2 separate regions of the Homo sapiens genome follow, and region 1 is linked to region 2. A link means that fine-mapping ties the variant in region 2 to the expression of a gene that starts in the linked region. Tissue or cell type: cerebellar hemisphere. Region 2 holds a variant in brackets; the other region holds the start of a gene. All regions are shown on one strand. Distances are between the middles of the regions.

Evidence for each region. PIP is the estimated chance that this variant, and not a neighbour inherited with it, causes the effect.
Region 1: SLCO1C1 starts here. The variant in region 2 is fine-mapped to the expression of SLCO1C1 in cerebellar hemisphere (GTEx, PIP 0.97).

Annotation. Positions count from the first base shown.
Region 1 is chr12:20,692,798-20,697,924 of GRCh38, reverse strand. SLCO1C1 (solute carrier organic anion transporter family member 1C1) reads right to left here and starts at 2,593. Exons shown (of 15, transcript NM_017435.5): 1 at 2,118-2,593.
Region 2 is chr12:20,077,879-20,083,097 of GRCh38, reverse strand. The region is part of intron 2 of LINC02398 (long intergenic non-protein coding RNA 2398); the gene reads right to left. Among named protein-coding and RNA genes, the nearest start is that of LINC02468, 47 kb to the left of the region's middle. The variant TTGC/C (reference allele first, on the strand shown) is at 2,486.

The DNA.
Region 1 (5,127 bases), 610 kb before region 2:
TAGCCGATAATGGAAACAGATAATCATTGTCTCCATTAGTTTGACAAAAATAACATTATCTTGGTAACAAAACAGCACAAAGATAGCACAGAAAGGAAAACTTCAGATCAAGCCCATAGATTATAAAAATTCTAAGTAAATGCTAGCAAATCCAAATTAACTCTTGCTCTATGATTAGAATTATTCTAAAAGATGCAACAATTGGTTAATTACAGGAAATTTATTCACCTAAATTACCACATGAATAATTCAAAATAAAAAATAGAATTTCATTACATGAAAAACATCAGTTGATAAAATTCGACATCTATTACTGATTTAAAAAACAAAGTTTAAGAAATGAAGAATATAGAGATTCTTCCTTAACAGTATCTGATACCAACAGCCAACTTCCTATATCTACTGAGTCACTAGGACTACTTTTCTAGAACAGTATTTTGCCAGGACAAGGAAAACAGGGTTTGGGAAATGCAGAGTTATACAATGTTAAATAGGTATCTTTACTACAAAACTATGAGTAAAAATATTGCCAAGCAAGAGATATACAAACCAGAAAGGTTTTAAAATAAGAAACGGATAATTATTAAATTTCTGGCTTAAATTGCAATATTCTTCAAAGGATTAAATTATATAATTCAAATTGGCCTTCTGTTTTTGGGGATTCAGATATCATATTATTTCTCATCAGTCATAATATTAAAGTCAGTGACCAGAAAATACAAATAAATTGTTTAATAATAAAATCTGCTATCATTTATCCTAAATTTATCTTTAAAAGATCCAAAGTGTTACATCTAGAATGCTAATGTCAAAGAGAAAAAATAATTATGTTAAAAACACTACTGAAAAACTTGAGATACTATAGCACATTTTAAGTTATCTAATATATGGAGGTGTTGACACAAAAATCACTGTAACTAAAATTCAAAAGTATAATGAAATATAAATATAGTCATCTCAGTTCACTTTGTGTTAGGGCAAAATAGGATCCAGCTTAAACTATTGGCACTGCATAGCTTTACTGAAGTGTCTTGATGGTTAATGCGCAAATTATTGCAAGTGTAGTATGTTCCAAGGAGGCTACAGTTCATCCCCTGTAAAAAGAGAGGGAAGGAAGCTCAATGACATGAACGGAAAGATCCTTGGGGCCTGCAGGCTCTCTCTCTTCATTTGCAACTGCAGAAGTAGAGCAAGAGTACACAGTTATTCAGAATTATTTGCATTTGGCAAATCCTTAATTGATCTCTGGCCACTTGAATAGATTCTTCCAGGAAAAGACATACGACAGTTTTCATCCAATACCCTGGGTTTGGAGCATAACTTATTCTGGAGGCCAAAGAAAAACAAGCCAAGCAGTTTCTCTTCCTTTGGTTCAAAAACATTGAATAATCAGTCCTCATTAGTTTCAAAATCAGCCCTCCAGATTTTAAATGGAGAGAGCAAGTGGCTTAGGAAGGTTGTAGTTAGATCCCGCAGATGTACTCAACCCCTCTGCTCTGCAACTGACTCGGACTCTGTCCAGCAATCAGTCCCCAAGGACTGCCACAGAGAAAGTCCTAAAGGCAACCACGCTCCTCCCTCTCTTCTCTTGGCCATCTCCTGTGAGGAAAACCTCTGTCCTGGCTTGACTTCTGGACACCAGGATGCCTCCCTTCAGACAAACTAAAAAATAGCCTCACGGCACTTGCTGCAGAGGAGTGTGTGTTGTTTAGAAACTAATTTCTCACCTAATACAAATTATCTGTGTCAGATTCAGATTTAATAAGTACTATTTTTGTGTTGAGTAATGTACGTACTTTTTCTAATCCTTAAAACAACCCAACAAACGTAATATTAGAATTCCATTTTTTAAATTAGATGGCCCAAAGCAATTAAGTGACTTGTCAAAAGCTAAACAATTTATAAGCATGAGACTCAAAATTTGAACTCAAATTTGAGTTTATCTGATTTCTTTAACCAATCTTCTCTCTTATTTCCATCAAACTAATGAGGGGATCATCACCTTTCACTGATATTTTTATGGATAAAACATAAATCGCACAGAAATTAAGGGTTAATCTCCCATAAGAATCTGATGTATTAGTCACAAAATATAAAATGAGAGAACCAAGTCTTACCTGGAGGAAGAGATCAAAGATAGCCAGTTCCTTTCAATGTGCTCAGCAAGAGGATGGACCACACACCACAGACTGAAAGAGGAAACTGAGGTAAACTCCACAGCAATTTTGAACAATTTTGCCAGGTGGGGAGAGTGTGGGTGGACACAAGCAGAGGAGATTAGGGAAAAGAAAAGATGAAGGGCATGGTCTCACCCCTGAGCGATCTCTTCTCTTTCCTCTTTCTTCCTGGCCTCTTTTTTCTGGCAGTCAGCAGAGAATTGGCCACGCTGGCAAGGCCACTGACGTGCATCTCAGCTCCCAGGGCACAGAAAGAGCTGAAGCTTTTGAGCCATTTCTTTGCAATTTGCTGCAAGTTTAAGGCCACACGTGATAAAGCTTTCTTTATGGGAGAGAGTGAATAAAAGAAAAGACCACTTGTGATCTTACTTGCTGATTCCCAGAAAACACAACTCCGCAGGGGGCAGAGGGTAAGGAACAGAAGCCAGAGGAGGGCGGAAGTTTATAACAGAGACCCCTCCTCCTTCCAGAAAGTTTTTAAGCCAACTATTCCTTAGGGACATCACTGGGATCCTTGTGTTTTCTTTGTTTGTGTGTTTTGGTTTTGGTTTGTTTTGTTTTGTCTTTAACGGTTCTTGGGCTAATTTGCTACATGGTTTTCTTTTCCATTGGTGTTCTAGAATCTTTAAGGACCAAGTATCAGGTCACAATCAAAGCTCTGCAGCGCTCTGTACAAAAAGAGTTAATTCTCAGAGACATGATCAGTTGCTCATATTTACAATTTCTATGAGTTTTGAAAACAGAAAAGAAACACGTTGAATTTTTGGCATTCAATTGTTTATTCTGCCTAATTCCAAGGATAAATAAATCCTTGCACTGAGAAAGTCCACAATTCTAATACATTCTTTTTCCAAGAGAAAAACTTTAGAGGATCTTAAGCAGTAGTAGTTTGCATTTATTTTCTACCAATAAATAAATTTGCTACCAGAATTATCCAAGATTCACCCTACTCTTAAGTGGCTGAGACTCTGGGATGGTCACTTAATTTTACTGAGTCTCAACTTCTTCCTTTGTAAAGCAGAATTTTTTTGTTTAAAAAAAAAAAAAACAGATTTATAGGGCTGTTTTAAGGATTAAATTATATAATGTATTCAAAAGCACATTGCAAATGAGCGGAAGGTATCATCATTTTATATATATATATATTTAGTTCACATAATGGTCAGAATAGTTAATATTATTCAAGCACATTTTACTACAAAAGAAAGAAAAGAAAATGCAAGAAAAATGGGTTTATATTAAACCTTGCAATGAAGCAATGGTGTTTTCACACTCTGAAAGGCCAAATATTTTACTTTAACAATCAAACCAGACTTTTCCATCGGAAATAGTGAGCAAACATCCGAATACATTGAGTGTTAGTCTAGACTTCTCAGTGTCTAACAGGTGGCCAGACCACTGTTTTATTCAAGAGGAGACAGTATTTACCAGCCCAAAGGGCATAATTTTCCTCACCAAGAAATGAAATTCTCCCTTGAGAATGTAATTTTGTCTATTCCCAACTGGCTCAGTCTCACTCTCCAACACGATTCCTTTTCTTATTTCCAGAGTCCACAGTTAATGTTACTGTTTTGAATGCACATAATGTTTACACTTATTCAGAGCTTCTTATGTGCAACCTTGCATTGGATTGTAGCCTACTTCAGCCTTTCATTCCCATTTCCAAACTCTAGATGAGGGAGTTAACAAACTTCTATAAAGGGACAAATAAGAAATATTTTAGGTTTTGTAGGACCATGCAATCTCTATCACAACCACTCACCTCTGCCATTCTGGTGGTAAATTAACCACAGACAACATATAAATGAATGCATTTCCTAAGACTGCACTAACAAAGTACTACAAGCTGAGTGACCTAAAACAGAACTTTATTGTCTCACACTTTTGGAGGCCAGAAGTCAAAAATCAAGGTGTCAGCAGAGCCATGCTCCCTCTGAGACCTGTAGGGAAGAATCCTCCTTACCTCTTCCACCTCCTGGTGTTTGCTGACAGCCTGAACTCCTTGTTTTATAGGTGTATCACTCCAACAGCTGCTTCTGTTACCACATGGCCATCTTCTCCCTTTATGTCTCTGTCCTCTGTACTTAAAAAAACGCTAGTCATCTTTGGCTGGGGACCACCCTCATGACCTCATCTTAACTTGATAAGGTCTGCTAAGACTCTCTTTTCAGGAAAGGTGACATTCACAGGTACCGGGGGTTAGGACTTCCTCATATCTTTTTGGGAGACACAATTCAAGCCAGTACACTCATATTTTCATTTTCCTCCTTACTTGAATTTTTTCATGCAATTATTTTAATCACTTCCTTCTGTATACCCTCAATTCTCCTGTTTCTCTTTCAATTTATTGATCTTCCCAGGCAAAGCTCACCTCAGATAAATCCACTTTCTTTCTTCTTAGTATTTGCATCCGCACTGTTTTAAGTGATTGAAGAACAACTCAGTAACATGCCCTTAGGGCTTATTTTATATTTATAACCACTAAACTCACTGAGTCATAGAGGCATTGCTAGACGTAATACTTTTTAATGACCCAATCACTTTACCTCTCTCAAATCTTCATTTCTGGCTGCACCCTGATTATTAGCTGATGATCTTGTCTAGGAAATTCACTAACTAAACAGAAATATCAGGAGAAATATTATACTCTGTCCTCATGACATCTACTCTCTACCCAAATGTACATTGCTATTAGCTGTCTTCCTTCTTGCTCCTACAGTCCATGTTTCTAAGCCCAAACTTTAGTCACATTCCTTGTATATATTTCCTCTCCTCCAGTTCATTTTTCACCAACTCTAATCAGGTTTTGCCTTTACCACTCCAATGCAAATATTTTCATCAAGAACATTAAAGGCATTCACACTAATAAATCCAGTGATCAATATCCAGACCTCATTTTAATTGATGTATTAGCAGAATTGTATGTCATTAATGTGCCCTTCTCTTTGAT
Region 2 (5,219 bases):
CAACTTTTTTGAGATATAACTTACATCTAATAAAATGCATCCATTTCACATGCACAGTTTGATGAGTTCTGACAAATGAATACACTCATGTTGCCACCACCACAATCAAGATTTAGAAAATTTCCATTATTTACATCAAACAACTAACTCCCAGGCAACCACTGACATGCTCTATGCTTATTAGGCAGTATAGCATAGTGGATAAAAATAAATCTATAGAGTCAGACTGCCTCAATTCAAACCCTAGTCCCACCACAGCTAGCTGTATGCCAGCCAAGACGTCATTTAACCTTTCTATGTCTCAATTTCCTTTTCTGTAAAATGGATATCATAATAATAGTAACTTCCTTTAAGGTTGTTAGGAGGATTAAATAAGTTAATGTACGTAGGTGCTTATAACTGTGCCTAGCACATACTAAGTGACATATAGGCTTTAGCTGTGTTCCTAGGGTAAAGACGTCCATTGCCCACACGAACTTTGCTTAGAGACCTATTGTTAGATGAAGGAGGCAATAATGATAGCATGGTTCATTATTTTCCCTGTACAGAATTTTAACAGAAAATTTATTTATGAAAGCAACTTCAATTGCTAAGCATATTATAATATTCAACTGAAGGTATGAGTTGCAATTCTACTTCCTTTACAAAGGCAAAAAAATGTATATTTATTGGAGAATCAGGGTTATTAAGAGCACCTGTTTATTCAGAAGAGCCAAAAAAAGTAGTTTGCATTGTTTAGCACATTCTGTAACAAGCAAGCAAACAAGAAAACTCTAACTTTTTTCCATTGTTCTAAGTAAATTAGGTACCTGTTAAGTGATAACAACAGTAATAGTATCTACTTCCAATTCTCACTCTTCATACTTATGAGCAAAAAAGTAAGCATCATTAATAAGACAGGATAGTCTTAAATGTCATTTTCATAATTAATGCCCTGGACAAGTAGATTAAATAATTCAAGGGGAAAATTATCTCAAGTCACTTCTTGTGAGTAGAAACTGTGCAATCAAAAGACATTTTTAAATCAAATGCATATTTAGAACAAATTCAAGTATAATGTGATTATTTTATAAAAAGTAAATTAAGAGACTGGTGGATTATTTTGCTTTTAACTAGTTTCTCTCTAACAACTATAGTACCAATTAGAATTAATTATATAAATTATGTCTAAATAAAGTACATAAATATCTTCTGACAGTTTTATATTCAACTTCCATGGTTCAGGAAAAGAATCTAAATTTATAATCAAGATAAACTAGGTACTGAATTAAACATCTTGATATAAGTAGGAGAAAATCTGTAATTAGCGTGACATACAAAGAACCAACAGCAACCGATTATTGCTTTAATTGAATATTTCAATCTGAAAGTTGTTTTTTTAAAGATCACTATCAATGGCAAACTTTTAAAATGTCAACATTTAAATTTATATTTAGAACATTGCTACATGTACAAAATAAGAAAATATGTGAAATAAAAATGGAAAGAAATAAATCACCAGATTTTTAAAGTAAACAATATTTAGACCCAGACCTCATAAAATTGACCATTTTACTTATAGTTTTACTTGGCATTACATAGATTGATAGCATCAATCTTAAAACATTGTGTTTTACCTTAACTACCCTCGCAGTAAGGCAATGGTCACTATAGAAGAGTATATATCAATGATCATCTTTATTCCAGAAATTACACTAAAGAAAATTAAAAAGACAAATTAACCAACCACAATGTATAGGCTTTATGTGGCCCTTTTTCAAATAAACAAACTGGAGAAAAATGAAAAATGTGAGTACTAACTGGACACTTGACAATACCGGCAAATTAATGTTATTTTTAAGGTGTGATAATAGAATAATGGGTTTCTTTATTTTTTACAAATTCATAAAGAAATACTTACCCAAAAAAAGCCAGTATGATATCAGGAACTCAACCTAATGGGAGCAAGAAGGAGGTAAGTAATTGACAATAAAAACAAAATAATCAGTCATGTCCTATTGACAACAGGGAAGTTCACAATTAGTGCGTAGTAGTTCACTATACAATTCTCTCCTTTTGTGTATGTTTGAGATTCTTCATAACACAATTGTTATTAAAAACGCACTCTTATTTCAAGAAAACAAAGAGAGAATAAAGATATATGAGGTTAAGTATGTGGGAATATTTGCCTCCTTCATAGAGAGCTCTTGAGTATTTAATTCATTCTATGTGAAATAAAACATGATCTATAGGTTAAGACTTCTTTATCTCAAAAGGTTACATTGAAAAAATTAAGATCATGGCAGGAATTTATTATATATCCTTTCTCTATCTTTCTGGTTTCTCCAAAAACTGTAATAATATCTATGGTCCTGCAATTTGCAATTTCATAAAGATATTGTTTAAAATAAAAGGCAGAGAAGAAAGAAAAAAATAGTAAACTCTCAGAAAGTATTAATATTATTCTATTACTGACTTGTAACCACAGTGGTGTTGGCTGTTGTTG[TTGC/C]TATTCTCCATTTTCTCATATCGGCACCAGTTGGTAATTTTTTCTTTAAAGTCTTATACACTGCTTATTAAAAAGTATTGCTTTCCACTGGATTGTGTCAAGTTAAACTAATGAAACTAAATGTCATGTGCTTTAGTGTGTAAACATCAATATCCTTAGAGTATAAAAATGTACCTTAAGAAGAATGCAAGGGATGACCTCTGAGAAGCTTGTTAGCTGTTCTGTGATGTTTGAGGTAATCATAACAGGAATACATGTGTTCCCAATCTCCTGATAATCATGCCGACAAGTTTCTAGACACTTGAAACTTTTAAGACTTTTAAGACTATTGCTTACTTTGTACCTCAAGAATTTGAGAAATTATTTTTCTTTTACCATGGGATCACAATTGCTATCTCAGATCCAGTCAGATTTTTGCATCTGAAATTTGTAAATTTTGCAAATTTTTTTTTGCAGATTTTGCAAAGAAACTGGTACACTCATTTCCCTTCAAACACTTTGATGTCATATGAGAGATAGTTGATTCTTGCCACGGTTTATCACAGTAAATTCAATCTGTGACTGTATTGACATAAAACACAAACATCCAGATGAAAAGTGAAAAATTCAATGAATCATTTGAATATTTCTATACAGGACTCAGGTAGTTGAAAATAATACAGTTCAATTACATATATTTTCAAATATGAAATCTGAACTCAATAAATAAAATTCTGATATTTTTGTTGTGATCTATGTGAAGACAGACAATAGCAATAAAATAACTGGAATACTGACCAACTTTTATACGAAAGGATTTAAATGGTTATGAATATCGTGCAGACAAAAACCACAGATCATTTTTAACAGATTACATTTTTCTACTGCTTTTATTTTTAAAAGAATTAGCTAAAAACTACTTCTTTTGAAAAATATTTTAAAACTAATATTTCTGTATAATATGTGAGGATGAGGATCTCTTATTTAATGATAATAAGCTCCTGAGTTGCCAAAGATTCTTAATGTTAAATGCAATAAAGAATACCGTTGCTGGACATTATTTAAAAGCCTCATATAATTGCTTTAGTCATGTTAATAGCAAATGCTTCCAGAGTGCTTTGCCAATAGAATTCAATAACCACAGAAGAGGCGACAGGGAATGTAAATTATAGTTTTTCGATTCTGGTCCTTGATAATATATTCTCTAAAAGTCAATACAGTTTTCTAATTTAGATGGTAGTAGTTTAGTTTCTAGTGATTAAATAACCATTTAGAAGAGGTTAGTTGAGGCAAAAAAGCAAAACTTCCCAAATCCCAAAACGCAAAGAAGTCTAGGAACCTTCATGGCTTCAGACGTTCATCATTAGATGTCACAATAACATGACATTCATTTTCTTAAGTGGTTTATTAGCCTCAACGATTTGTAATATTTACTATTTAATGGCAAGGGAGAATTGTCAACAATTAGCTCCTGGAGAGTGGCCAATTGACAACATTAAAATAATGTTCACCTCAGCAAACTTCCTAATGCTAGGTAAGTAACAAAAATGAGTAAGAAACTGACATTGTTGCTATGAGGTATTCGCTGGACACCATCAGAAGCAGGGTGGCCAGAAGGCTTTCTCTGAGTTACCTAAACACAGCTTCAAACTGCACAGGAAAACCGGCACCTGCTGAGAAAGCTCAGCCACATGCCTGTCTGAACTCAAGTAATAGAAAATGGTTTTCTCCTTTTGATCAAAGAAAACATACAGAGAGATAAAATGGTTGCATTTTATGAATTTACCATAAGGAATAATAAATGACAATTGCATCTGGAATCCAAATATCCAAAAATGACAGAATGCCCGGACAGGTGCATTTTTCTCATCCACATACACAGAGTATGCGTGTGTGTTATTTAGGGAGTCAGACAGATCTGAGTTTGAATTTTAGCTTTACCATTTGCAAACTGTTAGAAATTAATCTTTCTAGTCCCAGTTTTATAACTGGAAAATGAGAATAATAATTGTGTTGATCCATTGTTGTAAAAATTAAGATAATGTGTGTTAAAATAGTATCACTGTTCCTGAAAGTGCTCAGTAATTACTAGTGTTCACATTATTGTAGTCATTCATATGTAGAGTTTCCAGATTTAGAAAAAAAATAGAATTCCCAGTTAAATTTGAATCTCAGGTAAACAATGAATACATTTTTAGAATAAGTATGTCTCACGCAATATTTGAAACATACTTATTCTAAAAATTGAATTATTGTTTATCTGAAATTCAAATTTAAGTAAAGATCCTGCCTTTTATCTGGCAACCTTATTTACACATAAATGTGGTCAAGAAAATTCATTTATTTATCATTTAGCTAAGAATGTATTGATAAAAACTAAGATACCTAAGGCAGTCAAACAAAATGTACACATTAAAATTCATGGTCATTGCTAAAGGAAAGGCTCCCTATGCCTTCACTCAGTATCTACGAACCTTAACTTCAGATCTCAACAATTTATTTTCTAAGTAAGAGATGCTAGTTTTGGAGAATTGCGCTTACAAAAAATATAAAAGTATAGTTGCTGTGGGAAAATTCCAGGCTCCAAAAGGAGGATTAGCACAAACTAGTGGCTACAAGAAGTGCTCCCAGGCAAGCCTGTCTTTCCTGAGGCCCTGGGCTTTGTCTTCTGATTTTCTCCTGTCAGCTTGCAAACCCAGACGGAGCCATGGACTTTGGCATTCCTATTGTTATCTCTTGTGCTACCCCAATA